Linked DNA regions of Homo sapiens. The protein of the gene in region 2 purifies or fractionates together with the protein of the main gene of each other region. This does not show direct contact. Each region holds a gene or a part of one and is shown on either strand. Other genes may lie near its edges.

Evidence for each region. The genes of interacting proteins can lie anywhere in the genome.
Region 1: the proteins of PLK1 (region 2) and SPAG9 purify together in Homo sapiens (affinity purification with mass spectrometry; 8 studies listed by BioGRID and IntAct, with this or other methods). This does not show direct contact.

Annotation. Positions count from the first base shown.
Region 1 is NC_000017.11:50,991,869-50,995,368, forward strand, and holds part of SPAG9 (C-Jun-amino-terminal kinase-interacting protein 4), read right to left. Parts: intron 3,357-3,500; coding exon 3,189-3,356; intron 2,068-3,188; coding exon 1,896-2,067; intron 1-1,895. UniProt on the Homo sapiens protein: The JNK-interacting protein (JIP) group of scaffold proteins selectively mediates JNK signaling by aggregating specific components of the MAPK cascade to form a functional JNK signaling module.
Region 2 is NC_000016.10:23,685,198-23,689,044, forward strand, and holds part of PLK1 (serine/threonine-protein kinase PLK1), read left to right. Parts: intron 1-2,271; coding exon 2,272-2,427; intron 2,428-3,470; coding exon 3,471-3,548; intron 3,549-3,847. UniProt on the Homo sapiens protein: Serine/threonine-protein kinase that performs several important functions throughout M phase of the cell cycle, including the regulation of centrosome maturation and spindle assembly, the removal of cohesins from chromosome arms, the inactivation of anaphase-promoting complex/cyclosome (APC/C) inhibitors, and the regulation of mitotic exit and cytokinesis.

The DNA of each region.
Region 1 (3,500 bases), on a different chromosome or scaffold from region 2:
CCACCTCAGCCTCCCAAAGTGTCTGGATTACAGGTGTAAGCCACCATGCCAGGTCTTTTTTTTTTTTTTTTTTTTTTTTTTTTTAAAACACAGGGTCTTACTCCCATTGCCCAGGTGGGTGTGTAGTGGTGCAATCGTAGCTCACTGCAGTCTTGACCTCCCCGACTCAAGTTATCCTCCCGCCTCATTTTTTGATTTTTTGTGGAATGAGGTCTCACTATATTGCCCAGACTGGTCTCAAACTTCTGGGCTCAAGTGATCGTCCCACCTTGGCCTCTGAAAGTGCTGGGATTATGAGTGTGAACCTCCATGGCCGGCCTATTTCTAAAGCTTTTCCATCACCTCACACAGAAACTCTATGTTTTTATGAATGTGCCTATTCTAGATATCTCATATAAGCGGAATCATATAATATTTGTCCTTTTGTGTCCGACTTATTTCCTTTGGCATAGTGTTTCCAAGGTTCATCTGTGTTATAACATGTGTCAGAACTTCTACCTAGAGGATAATGTATTGTACTCTTAAAAATTTGTTAAGAGGGCTGGGCATCCCAATACTTCGGGAGGCCAAGGCAGGCAGATCACTTGAGCCCAGGAGTTCCAGACCAGCCTGGGCAACATGGTGAAACCCTGCCTACAAAAAGTACAAACAACTTAGCCAGGTGTGGTAGTGTGCGCCTGTGGTCCCAGCTACTTGGGAGGCTGAGCTGGGAGGATCACTTGAGCCCGGAAGGTCATGGCTGCAATGAGTACAATGAGTTGTGACTGCACCACTGCAATCCAGCCTGGGCAACAGAGTGAGGCCCTGTCTCAAAAAAACAAAAACAAAAATGTGTTAAGAGGGTAGATCTCAGGCTGGGTTCAGTGGCTCATGCCTGTAATCCCAGTACTTCGGGAGGACGAAGCGGGTGGATCACCTGAGGTCAGGAGTTCAAGACTAATCTGACTGCCCGGGGTGGTGGGTCACACCTGTAATCTCAGCACTTTGGGAGACCGAGGCGGGCAGATCACGAGGTCTAGGAGTTCGAGACCAACCTGGCCAATATGGTGACACCCCATTTCTACCAAAAATACAAAAATTAGCCGGGTGTAGTGGCTCGTGCCTGTAGTCCCAGCTACTTGGGAGGCTAAGGCAAAAGAATCACTTGAACCCAGGAGGTAGAGGTTGCAGTAAGCCGAGACGGTGCCACTGCACTCCAGTGTGAGTGACAGAGTAAGACTCCATCTCAAAAAAAAAAAAAAAAAAAGACTAGCCTGACCAACATGGTAAAACCCCGTCTCTAGTAAAAATGCAAACAATTAGCCGGGCGTGGTGGCAGGTGCCTGTAATTCCAGCTACTCGGGAGGCTGAGGCAGGAGAATCACTTGAACCTGGAAGGTGGAGGTTGCAGTGAGCCGAGATCATGCCATTGCACTCCAGCCTGGGTGACAGAGTAAGACTCTGTCTCAAAAAAAAAAAAAAAAAAAAAGTAGAACTCATATTAAGTATTCCACAATAAAATATAAAAAAGAACTTCATTCCTTTTTATGGCTGAATAATATTCCAACATATGGATATATCACATACACTTCTTTAATTTTTAAACTAATGTTTTAACATCACATAATGTTTAATCCAAAACTTTAGAAGACCTTTCCTTATTAATTAATCCAAACAGTCCTCTGGCTCCCAGTTATTTTCTCATATTCCCATTGTTTTATTTTCTTCACAGTATTTTTCACTACCTGAAAATATCTTCTTTATTCAATGGTTTCCAGTTTGTTTTTTAATCTTCCCTAACTAGAACATAAGCTTCATGACAGCAAGGTGCAGAACTGCATCTTCAGCTGCTACATCAGTGCCCAGCAGGTAGGTGGATGGAGGGGAGGGCAGAGAAACGCATGACTCACTCTTACCTGGCACACTTGCAATGCACAGAACATGAGAGTTGCAAACAGTGAAACTGTCTAGGATGTTGCCAGGTTGAACAGCATCAATAATAAGAACTTTTGTAGCCGAATGAGTGCTGGTACAGATCCAAACTAGACTGGATAATTCTTCTTGATTTTTTAACTCCTTCTGCTGTTCCTGTATAGGCAAAGGAGGAAAAATGTTTAAAACAATATGTATGTACAAATATTCATAAGGTGGTGCTGTTACAGTAAAAGGCAATACTATTTCAAATTTATTTCCAGATTATTTGGAAGGGTAAAAATACAACCACTGATGTGGTTTGGCTGCGTCCCTACCCAAAACTCAACTTGAATTGTATCTCCCCGAATTCCCACATGTTGTGAGAGGGACCCAGGGGGAGGTAATTTAATCATGGGGGCCAGTCTTTCCCATGCTATTCTCGTGATAGTGAATAAGTCTCACGAGATCTGATGGGTTTATTAGGGGTTTACACTTTTGCTTCTTCCTCATTTTCTCTTGCTGCCACCATGTAAGAAGTGCCTTTCATCTCCTGTCATGATTCTGAGGCCTCCCCAGAGGTTACCTATGTAAGCCCAATTAAACCTCTTTTTTCCTTCCCAGTCTCGGGTATGTGTTTATCAGCAGTGTGAATATAGACTAATACAACCACCTATCAATATTAATTAGTAGATGAAAAACTAGCAGTTAGGCTGGCACAGTGGCTCACGTCTGTAATCCCAGCACTTTGGGAGGCTGAGGTGGGAGGACTGCTTGAGGCCAGAAGTGTGAGACTAGCCTGGTCAACACAGTGAAACCCTCGTCTCTACAAAAAATAAAATTAGCCAGGTGTGGTGGTGTGGGTGTGTAGTCCCAGCTACTTGGGTGGCTGAAGTGGACAGATCACTTGAGTCCAGGAGGTTAACACTGCAGTGAGCCATGATCATGCCACTGCACTCCAGCCTATGTGATAGAGTGAGACTCTGTCTCTAAACAGCAACACAAAACTAACAGGTAAAGCAGAACAATGATAAAATGTTCCATTAGCTTGATCACTGTAGTGATTACATACGTGTACACATGTGTCAAAACTCTGACCTATACCCATTTCGAGTGCACACTTTATTGCATGTAAATTATACCTCAATATTTTAAAATTGATTTTAAAAGGGTGCTGAGGGACAGTAAGCCAGGGCATAGTAATCCCAATTAGAAGCTGGACCCAGAGGCAAATTTTGGATGAAAGAGTTAAACTCATAGTCTCATAAACCAGGTCAAATGTTAGTACACACACTTACCTTAAGTTCCTGATCTAACTTATCTAAACTACTCTGAGAGGCACTTCGCTGTTTACTGCCTTCTGTATCCAAACCAGCAACATCCTTGTAAAATACACTTGCTCCAACAACAGAACCACCATCTCTGGTCTTCCCACCAGATAAATTGACTCCAACAGCACACCACAGCTTCTCAGGTGAAAAAGAAAACAATATTAAGTCTAGAAATGTTTAGCATTTTCATGTTTTCTTAAAATAACTAATGGTTGTAAATACAGGTCTTATAACCTAATATTATAAAATGAACAATAACCTCACCATAGAAGTAATACT
Region 2 (3,847 bases):
AATTTTAGGCTTATACAGAAAAGTTGCAACAACAACAAAAAACTCCCCAGAGTTCCTACATACCTTGCAGCAATTATTACAGTGGAATTTTTTTTGAGACAGGTCTCAGGACTTGCTGTCACCCAGGCTGGAATGCAGTGGCTCACTCATAGCTTACTGCAGCCCCAACATCCTGGGCTCAAACAGTCCCCCTGCCTTACCCTCCAGAGTAGCTAGGACTACAGGCATGTGCCACCATACCCAGCTAATTAAAAAATTTTTTTCTTTGGGAGGCCGAGGTGGGTGGATTGCCCGAGCTCAGGAGTTCGAGATCAGCCTGGGCAACATGGCGAAACGCTGTCTCTACTAAAAATACAAAAGACTAGCCGGGCGTGGTGGTGTGCACCTGTAATCTCAGCTACTCGGGACACTGAGGCACAAGAATCACTTGAACCTGGAAGGCGGAGGTTGCAGTGAGCCGAGGTCTCACCACTGCACTCCAGCCTGGGCAACAGAGCGAGACTCTGTCTCAAAAAAAAAAAAAAATTTTTTTTTTGTAAAGACAAGATCTCACTATGTCGACCAGGCTTATCTCAAACTCCTGCCCTCAAGTGATCCTCCTCGGCCTCCCAAAGTGTTAGGATTTACAGGTGTGAGCCACTGTGCCCTGCCTAGAATGATGTTCTAATGGTAATTTTTCTTTTCCTCACTTTTTTTGCATTTAATAATTGGAATTCTTCTGTAAGGAAGAGCTGTTCCTTCTCTCCGATTGATTTATTTATTTGGTTATGTCTGAAATAGACTCATGGATATTTTTATTCTTTGGGCTATATTTTAAAGGATTACTTATTTCTCTGCTTTTATTTATTTTTTTAAATTTGAGACAGGGTCTTGCTCTGTCTCCCGGGCTGGAGTGCAGTGGCACAGTCGTACCTCACAGTAGCTTTGATCTCCTGGGCTCAAGTGATCCTCCAGCCTCAGCCTCCCAAGTAGTTGAGACTTTAGGCATGTGCCACCGCGTCTGACCAATTTTTAAATTTTTGGTAGAGATGAGGTCTTGCCCACACTGGTCTCAAACTCCTGAGCTCAAGTGATCCTCCTGCCTCAGACTCCTACTTTTTTTCTTTCAGTTTTAATTTTTTATATAGCATTTTAAAAACTTAAGGAAATTTTCAGTTACCCGAAGGTGGAGAGAACTGTATGATGAGTCCCATGTTTCATCTATTTTTACTAGTTATCAACATTTGGACAGACTGTTTTATTTATTCCAGCCTCCTGCCTTTTTTGTTACCGGTGTTTTAAAAAATTATTATTTACTATTTATTATTATTTATTTGAGACATTCTTGCTTTGTTGCCCAGGCTGGAGTGCTGTGGCAAGATCATGGCTCACTGCAGCCTCCACCTCCTGCGTTCAAGTGACTCTCCCACCTCAGCCTCCCAAGTAGCTAGGACTACAGGTGTGCCACCATGTCCAGCTAGTTTCTGTATTTTTAGTAAAGACAGGGTTTTGCCATGTTGCTCAGGCTGGTCTCAAACTCCTGAGCTCAAACAATCTACCTGCCTCGGTCTCTCATAGTGTTGGGATTACAAGTGTGAGCCACTGGGCCTGGCCTTGCTGGAGTGTTTAAAGCAAATCCCTAATATCTTATTATTTCATACCCAAGTCCCTATCATGACATCGTTTTTTAATTGAAAACTTAAACATTTTATATTATACAAGGAGAATTAGCACATGGTGGTGGGGGAATAAATAAATAAGGAAAAAGACAATAAGAATAATCTGTGTTTCTACTGCCCAGATATAATCAGCGTTAAAATTTCATGTTATCTTTTCAAGCTTTTTTGGTTATAAATAAGCATATAAAGCAAATTTTGGGGTGGAAAAAAATTTCTTGTGTTTTTATTTAAATGCCTACTGAATCCATTCTGTGGATGAACTGAACTACTCAGCCCTTCCATCTGCCTGGATGCTGAAGATGCTTTCCATTCTTTGCTCAAAGCTGGGCAGCTCTGAGCTGCTGGTGCCTTCAAGCTGTTTGCCTGAGTGGCAGGTCATCCTGCAGGGCCACACCGTTGGGTCAGAGGCCACGGCTTCTGAAGATCTGTTGCCTCACAGTGAGCACTATGTGCCTGTCACCTGAGCATGGCAGCTGCTGCTCTAGTAACCAGGCACTGATTCAGTTTCCCCAAAGCAGTGGTAGCTAAGAGAATTTTTCTTTCGGAAGAGTTTCAGCTGTGGCAGGGGAGTCCCGTGCCCTTCCCAACGCCCCTGTTTTTGTCACCTTCCTAGGCTTGGAGAACCCCCTGCCTGAGCGTCCCCGGGAAAAAGAAGAACCAGTGGTTCGAGAGACAGGTGAGGTGGTCGACTGCCACCTCAGTGACATGCTGCAGCAGCTGCACAGTGTCAATGCCTCCAAGCCCTCGGAGCGTGGGCTGGTCAGGCAAGGTGGGTACTGCGGGGCCCTGGGCGGGGCAGGATTGCTTGGGGCATCTGGAAAAGGCAGGAGGAGGCTTGGCCAACAAAGCACTGGTGACTTGTTCAGGCCCTGTCTGCATAGGACCATTGGTTTCCCCATTTCCTGATATCCAAGGCCCTGCTTCCGTGGCTCCTGCCGCCTTTTCTGATCCGTCTTTTTTACTCTAGCACCTCGATGTGCCACCTTCATACGCTGTTTCTTTTGCTCAGTAAGTTCCTATTGTATCTTCAAGACCCTTGAAATAACAGACCCAGATGTACTGCAGCCTCAGGGCTTTCTCCCTGGTCCTGGCACGAAAGCACTTCTTCCAGACACCACATGGCTCACACTGTGGCCTCCTTCAAGTGTCTGCTCCAGTGTCAGCTCTGTGAGCATCTCCCTGGCCCCTCTGCTGGTGCTTCTCATCCTCTTGCCCACTGCATAGTTCTCCATAACACTTCTCACCCAACATAGTCCAACATGTCCTTCTTTGTTTATTGGATTTAAATTAAGGGGTTTGTTGCATGCACTGAACGTAACATTTTGATGTGTTTGCAACTGGCTTCTGTCTTCACAGTTTCTTAATTACTCCAAACTGGAAAACTAGATGCCTCTGACTCTTACCATGATAGAAGTCACTGATATTTTGCCCATACTTAAATTGATTAGTCTTTGCCCCTACAACCACAGTGTAAGCTCCGTGGAGGCTGGGGTTTTGTCTGTTGCTCACTGAACCTGCAACAGTGCCTGGCACGGTAGGCCTTCAGTAAATGGGTCAGTGGAATGAAGGAGTGAGTGGAACTTGGTGCGCTGTGCTGAGACTTTCTCTGCAGAGATATCTGTGCTGCTGCTTGTCTGAGCCTGCTGGCAGCAGAGGCCCTGCTTTGCTCTTCTCTGGGGCCCTAGGCCTCTCAACTGAGCCCAGGTGGGGTGCCCAGCAGGCTTCCCTGTTCCCTGGTGTGGGCCACATGTGTGGAGCAGAGGGGAAGAGGCTGGTCCTGACCAACTAACTGTCTGTCTGTTTCTGTCTCAGAGGAGGCTGAGGATCCTGCCTGCATCCCCATCTTCTGGGTCAGCAAGTGGGTGGACTATTCGGACAAGTACGGCCTTGGTAGGTTTCTTCCAGAACAGGTGGGTGACTCAGGCACAGCCAGGTGACCTTTTCAGTTGTTACAGACTCTGGCCTTTTTGAGCTCCCAGGTACTGTTCTCAGTGCCCTCCTCTCTCCATCCCAGGCCTCCCAGTTCCAGCTCCCAGTGCTCCCTGACTCCCCAGCTTTTTTTTTTTCCAGAGACAGGGTCCTGCTCTGTAGCCCAGGCTGGAGTGCAGTGGCACAATCATGGCTCACTGCAGCCTCAAACTCCCAGGCCCCTAAGTAGCTGTGACTACAGGCGTGCACCATTATGCTCA